Homo sapiens: one gene and its partner. The protein of the gene in region 1 purifies or fractionates together with the protein of each later gene. This does not show direct contact. Each region holds a gene or a part of one and is shown in the gene's direction. Other genes may lie near its edges.

Region 1 (3,826 bases):
TATTATTGAAACTTAAAGTAATATTTTGGTTGTATACCATAAATATATGCATTTTTAACTTGCCAATCAAAAAATTGAGTTAAAAATACTGTTTTCAGAGCAGGTGTTAAGGTATTTGCTTTTGGGTTTAAATTATATGTTGAATAATTGTTTTTATTTTCTGTTTAACAGCTGAGGTTATATACTGAAATGTTATGACTATATACTTCAATTTTTAATGGTCAGTGAAGATTATTGTTGTAGTGCAGAGCTTTTAATAATAACTTATAACCTTTCTTTTATAATTCCTTTTGGGCTATGTGATGTAATTCTTTTTAGATTTTGCTGTCGGACTTTCCCAAAGAGATTAACTTGTCATAATCATTAGATTGCTTGTATTATCTCAAATCATCTGTTCAATTTTCTCTGCGAATTTGGTTATCCTCTGTATCTTTTTATGGCCTTTGTTTTGGGGCTTCTTTAGATAGAAGTATCTAATCATCTTTGGAAGATGGTCTAGTCTGGCTGGGGCTGCCATAAATGGTTGTGCTAATGTGACGTGGTTCCCCACCACCTTCAGATGTGAAGTGCATCATGAGAATAACTGTACAGGGAAGTCCTGGGCTAGACACAGTTTCTTCTAAAGAAACTATAAATAATTCTGTCGGTAACACTTTCCTTGTTTATTACCTCACTGAGCAGCTGCATGATTTTTGCTGGCTTCCTTAACTTGGCCTTTCCTTCATCAAGACTTGTCCAGGAACATCTTCAAAGATGGAGGGATAGATTAAGGCCCATGCTTAGCTGGTGATCTATACAGGAGAATCCAATCTAGCCTAGTATATAAATTCTATACTGCCTTTTTTTTTTTTAAACAAAAGGAAATTCCAGCAATGATCCATGCTTCACCCCCTCTCTAAGCAGGCAAGGCAAGAATCTAGATAATTTTGTATTCATTTGGGAAGTCATTCTGATCATGAGGGAAAACTAGTATATTAAGCAGTATATTGAGCAGGAGAATTGAAATAGGAACAGCTTCTATTAGGTTGGTGCAAAAGTAATCGCGGTTTTGCCATTAAAAGGAATGCAAAACAGCAATTGCTTTTGCACCAACCTAATGGAAGTCCTTTTTTCTCTCCAGGACTGGAAATGATTGATGATCTTTACAGGGAAATATGGCCACCTGATTAAAGAGTGGGAAAGAGAGCAGAGAGAGACAGTATGGGTTTGATTAGGACCCAAATATGTCCTTGAGGCTCTTTCCAAAGGAAGTAGAAATTCAGAATTGTCCTGATGAGTGCAGGGTTTTTGAATGTCTAAGATAAGAAGAATTTGTCAAAATTTTCCTTAAAATGGGGCTTCTGATGATGTGTTTCCCACACCAGCAGCACCTGGTTAGAAATGTAGATTCTTGGGCCTGCCCCAGACCTACGGAACCAGAAACTCTGGGGATGTGGTGCAACCACCTGTGCTTAATCAAGCCTTTCTGGTGATTCTGAGGCAGGTTAAATATTGCTTAAAATATTGCAGAAGGTAGTGGTTTGAATCTGACCTTCAAAACCAATGTTTTTTTTCACTTACTTACAGTACGTCACCTGAGTTTACATATTGAACCTGAAGAAGGTAGCCTTGCAGGGGGAACGTGGATCACAGTCATTTTTGATGGTAGGTTGGGGTTTTACCAAGTGCACATTTCTTATGTATTGACCCACAATCCTAAAGACTATGAGTCTTTGGTTTTCTTCCTTTTCTAAGGACAGGTGTAAAAGTGGGCCTGAAGGGAGACGAACAGACTGACCAACTTCTGTCTTTCTAGATACTGGCTTGCTAATGTCACAGAAGCAAAGCACAGCATACCATGACAACTCTGTGTCCACTTTCCCATTCCAGGCTGTGGGATGGGACTCTGGGATTTCTACATGAGATGATATGGAAGTGTGTAGCATAGTGCTCAGCAATGCATCTCCCAGAATCTTGGCTATCTTCCTTAAAGACAGTCCTCTACTTGGGAGCTTCTGCACCATTGCTTAGCATATCCATCCCCAGCAGAGTAAAGAGTAAATCTGAGGGCTGAAAAATTCTTTTCTGGATTTAGGTGAACCTGAAGAGAGAAAACTCTTTCATAAAATCATAAATGAGAAAACTCCTTTATACAGCATCTATGAGGAAATGAGGAGTATTAATTTAATCCTTGGGCAAATTTAATGTCTTACATTACCCCCAGGATCTTAGCACAGTTTCACACTGTCCTGTGTCAATGACAATTCTATGCAGCCTGAGATTTCTTTCCCTTGTGTTAGGTTTGGAGTTGGGTGTTCTTTACCCCAACAATGGCTCTCAATTGGAGATACACCTGGTGAACGTGAACATGGTGGTGCCCGCACTGCGGAGTGTTCCCTGTGACGTCTTTCCTGTTTTCTTGGATTTGCCTGTGGTGACATGCCGGACCAGGTATACCTGTCTGGGAATAGGAAGACCAGACAGGATGAGGGATTTTTGCTTATCTCAGTATCTTTTGGTGACATATTAGAGCAATTTTTGCTGTGATTCAATTGCCAGCCATAGTTGTTAAAAAAAGTTTCATGTGAATATGCTTTCTAAAAGGTCCCTATCTGGGGTCTAGAACTTAACGGAGGATGAGAGTATGGGGAAGAACTTTGAGATATTCGTAAGGAGGGGCTGGATTGTGTTTCCATTTGTTTTTTTTTGCAAAGAGTTCTATGGCTATTAAGATTTTAATAAATGGTACCATTTTGCCATTGCAAATACTCATCTTTTGGAATAGGCATAATTGCAATGATTGCACATAAACCCCAAACTGGTTAGAAAAGAAATTTGCTTTAGGCTCTGTTTGCTGAGTTTGACATTACCTCTATTTAGAAAATATTTTTATAAGACTCCAGGGAATCTGTTTTTCTACTCAACTTCTTGTTGCCCTGTGAAATTTAGACTAGTTCATGTTCATTTTTATTTACTCATGTCTTAGGCATGAGTAAATAAAGTGCATGCAAGTAGATGATTGGTTAAGAGAAAAAAAACACTGTTATTTCCTTTTCTTTTCTGTTCTCTCTTTGAGGAAGTCTCCCCCTCTTCCATGTTTGGCTATGGAAATCACCAACCATACCACAAATGCCACCTTTTCCCTGAACATTCAACTAAGTTATCTTTCCCTTTTTTGAAAGGAGAAGGAACAACTTGTAGTAATTCATCCACAGGGTGTATGTGTGTGTACCCACACTTTTCTGTGCAATTCATCACCCCGAAGGGATTTTTTTTTTTTGTAATTTACACAAAGGTACAGCACGTGTAGCCTTAGTGACCCTGTGCCTCAGCTCTGAGTTTTCATAACACTTATATGTCAGTTACCCACTTGTCAGACTCCTCCTCACAGAATTAAGTGCTTTGAGGGCAGGGGATGTGTTTAATTTCACCATTGTAGTCCTCATGATGCATTGCGCAATATCTTACGAGTAGAGGATGTTCAATAAATGTCTGTTGAATTTAACATTTTTATACCACTACTATTGGTTTTAAAACTGGGTTATATATTTCCCTTAGATTTTATGGCACATTTGGGCATAGACATTCTGCAAAGACTTGCCATGAAACAAGTCAAAGCTCTGGAGATTTACATGTCCTATCTCCTTTATCCCAACATACTAATGATTTTTGGATGCACCATTGATTTTATGTCATCTTTTTAAAGAAAAGAAATATGATCCTATTAAATATACTAATTGATTGGAAGACAAATATCAGATTCAATTAAGTGTGAAAAATGTACAGTTTTTCATGAACAAAATATGTCTTATTCATCATTATCATAAAAACATGTACATAATTGTTT
Region 2 (3,826 bases), on another chromosome or scaffold:
CACCATCAATGTATGAAGTTTTGGTTGCTCCACACACTTGCAAACATTCTGCTGCTGTCAATCTTTTTAATTTTAACCATTCTGGGTTTATTAAATTTTTGAAGTTTAAAATTCCTGTTCTTAGCATACAAGTTTTTTTGAATGGGCCCTCCCTACCTGTACAGTGACATATCTCTGTCTTCTTAATTTTTATGCACTGATTTCTCATCTGAAGTTCTGTACTCTCTCTAGTTTGTTTGCCTCATAAAATCCTGTTCTTAAATGTAAAAACTCCTTCGAATCTATAATTGAAAGAAGGAGGTAGAGAGAGTTTCTGACCTCTGTCATCAGCATCAAGGCAGAAGAAAGTTAGGATAACTTGTTATACTGAATTATGTGTTTGTGTGTCTTTCTAACCTTCTAGACTACTGCTTTTTCTCAAAGGTGTGTTAGGGTTCTGTCAATGTCTGATTTTTATTTCATCTTTAAAATAGATCTTTGTATGTTGAAAAAACTAATTGAGGAAATGTACACTCAAATATGTTGTATACTAAGTAGTACACCAAGTTGTATACCAATACTCAAATGTGTTATATACCAAGTTGTTGCTTATAACTTGAAGACCAGTATTATGTCAATTTGGGTTGCCAGGGTAAATTGCTTTTAAACATACCCCAGATTAAAATTTCTCTTGCTATTTTTGTGCATGTCTTGATATTAACTGTAAATACGTTATTTGGTTGAGTTTAGCTCATTAAAAAAAAATTATACAAATGAGTACACACCTGAACAGTGCTGAATCAAATGGTAGCCTTTGCTTAGGCACATTTGAGCAGTACATGATCTAATACTGGAGTACTATATGTGTAGTGGCAAATAAATGTATTGGAATTGTATCATGAAAATACCATATTATAATTTATAGCTTATGTTTTTGAGTGCCCTTTGTCAGATTTATGCTAAAGGTAAGGGAGCAGTTTTTAGATATCATTATTGATTATGAAACAAATATCCTATAACTCATTCATCTGATATATAATAGCTATATATTATAGTACTTCTGTCTGCTTCTGTTTTAGGTGTTGGTTAATAAGACAGTTAAGTTTTTGTCTCATGGCTCATGCTTTGGTGGAGAAGTGCAGATAGATAAGTAAGCCTAATGTCAGATAGTAATAAATTCTTTGAAGAAAATAAAGCAAGTTGATGGAATAAATAATAAATTCTATCAATTATGAAATAGCAATAATAGAACAGTACTTACATTGTATTAATAAAATGCTGCTAAATGCTTTGTACATATTAGCACGCTTAATCCTTCCACTTCTATGAAGTAGATAATGTCATTATCCTCAATTTGCAGGTGAGAAACATGAGACACAAACAAGTTAAATAATAGGCCCAGCTGTGATGGAGCTGGTATTCAGACTTGGGTGTTTTAGTTTTATATTGCTGTGTAACAAACATCTCTAAATACAAGTATTTATTTTCTTTTAAGATTCCATGGGTTGAGTGTGATCAGGAGATTGTTGATTCTACTCCACATAGTGTTAGCTAGGACTGGAGCCATTTTGGGGCTTGGTTGGGTTGGAATTTCCAAGATGGCTCACTCACTTGGCTGCAGTTGATGTTGTCTATTTTCTGGAAGCTCAGCTGGAACTATTGACTTCAGCATCTCAGTTCTCCTTTGTGTGCCCTCTTGATGTGACCTTGGCTTCCCACAGCATAGAAGGAAGAGGAAGCTGCCATTCTTAAGGCCTGGGCTTGGAAATTCATAATGTCATTTTTGCAGTATCCTATTGGTCAGAGCAGTTGTAAGACCCCCCAAATTCAAAGGGAGAAGAAATGAATTCCATCTGTCAGTGGGGGAGAAACTTGCACATACATGGAGGGGAGAATGTGATAGTGGCCATCTTTGGAGATGATGTGCCACACCAGTCAATTTGACCCCTTAGTAGATAGGGATCAGCTTAGTCAGGTAACTCCATCCACTCTTAAGTTGTGACAGTCACGCAGACTTGATTGAAATGTGAAGATCTAGTTCTAGTTGATGAGTATTGTAAATGTGTTAATAACCTGTAGTGGAAATGAGTTTGTTGATTGAAGATATAGGAGGAAAGCTGTATGGCTGCAGCAAAGTTAAGGGGATGGCCTAGAGTGGAATGGGACAAAACAGAAACAAATTTTATGCTGGATTTCATAGAAGAATGGAACTGTCATTTATAACTCTAGTTTATAATTGTTTCATGAAAGCAGTTAGGTCCACCTACATGATTTGCAAGGTCTAATGCCGAATGAAAATGTGGGGCCCTGGCCTGTGATGAGGAAGTCAATCTCCCCTTTCTGTAGACCTTGTTTTTGTATAGGTCTGTGGACCCCCAAGCAAATATGTAGTCTCCATGTCAGGACATGCTCATTACCTACATCAGTGATAGGCAAGAGGCCACCCTCTGAATGTGCCAGGGTGATTCTAGCCTAGGATGGGGATGGCTGTCACCTTGCCTTTCCCTAGTTGTAGGGTGAGGATTAGGAGGTCAGACTGAGCCACAGGGTTCAACTGAGTGAGAACACTTCCTGGAGAGGCAGACCACTGGTGAGCTGAGGTGTCAGGCCCCTGGCACATGCTCCATTGGAGTCCTATTGGAGTTTACTTATAAAACTGATATTTAGAGATAAAATTATTAAGAATTTTAAGACAGTGATCACAGGGTATTAAACCCCAATCATGGATTCCTCCTGAGTGGTGGTCTCATGTGACTAGAGTGATCACATGCTCGTGAAGATGACCCTGAAGCCTATGTTACTTGGGGTGGTGGTGGTGGTGATGTAGACCAGGGGTTAGTAGATTAGTAAACCCTTTCTGTAAAGGGCTAGATAGTATTTTAGGCTTTATAGGCCATGTGGTCTCTGTCACAGCTACTCAGATCTGCCATTGTAGTGCAGCAGTATCCATACCAAATATGAAAATGAACAAATGGGCTGTGTTCCAGAAGACTATTTGCAAAAACAGTGTGCTGGATTTGGCCTGCTTGCTCTAGTTTGCCCACCCCAATGTAGATGTTATAGGAATGTACCTCATATAGGCCTGAAGCTTGGCATGTTGAAGGACGCTTCTAAGAAATTAATTTTTTATTTCACCCAGTCTCTAAATAAATTCCTAACAATGTGGTGAGGTTGTTTTGCATCCCTTACTTGCACCTGATAATCAGCCAAGCACCTAGTCTGTCCTAGAATTGGGATGGATATGAGTGGATAGTAGAAGAGAATATAATACTCCCTGTGAGAGTGTCAAAAACAGCTTATTCAAATATGGTAGAATCTTCATTCTGTTAGTGTGATTGCCTCATTGAGGTCATTCTTGACTACCTTATTTTAAATCACTATATCCCATTCACAGTACTCCTTATCGCTGTTTCCTGTTTGTTTTTATCCAGAGTACTTATCATCTTCTGGTATTCCAAATATTTTGCTTATTTATTTCCTACCTCCCTTCTTTCTCCCTGAATTTAAGCCTCATGGTGGTAGAGAGATTTTTGTCTGTTTTGCTCACTACTGTATATATCTTTCCATACCTGCCATATGGTAGACTTTCAGTATTTGATAAAGATGAATGAATGGTGCTAGTTCAAGGCCAATTTTATAGACATAAAACCTTGCCTATGTTATTTTATTCCTTTTTATATTTATTCTGTTTCTGCTACTGAGACCTGGGCTCTTTAAGGTGGGGGTGATGGTGGTGGTTGTTTCTTTGCATTCTCTTCCAGCTTGAAATATATTGCTTAGTCTTCCTCTGTCTCTCTCTCTGAATGGTGTCCTTTAGAGTTGTTCAATAAGTAGCCCATGAAGCCAT

The links.
Region 2: the proteins of PKHD1 (region 1) and NDFIP2 purify together in Homo sapiens (affinity purification with western blotting, with the first as the bait; one study listed by BioGRID). This does not show direct contact.

Annotation. Positions count from the first base shown.
Region 1 is NC_000006.12:52,080,996-52,084,821, reverse strand, and holds part of PKHD1 (fibrocystin), read left to right. Parts: intron 1-1,566; coding exon 1,567-1,644; intron 1,645-2,279; coding exon 2,280-2,430; intron 2,431-3,826.
Region 2 is NC_000013.11:79,487,654-79,491,479, forward strand, and holds part of NDFIP2 (NEDD4 family-interacting protein 2), read left to right. Parts: intron 1-3,826. UniProt on the Homo sapiens protein: Activates HECT domain-containing E3 ubiquitin-protein ligases, including ITCH, NEDD4, NEDD4L, SMURF2, WWP1 and WWP2, and consequently modulates the stability of their targets. As a result, may control many cellular processes.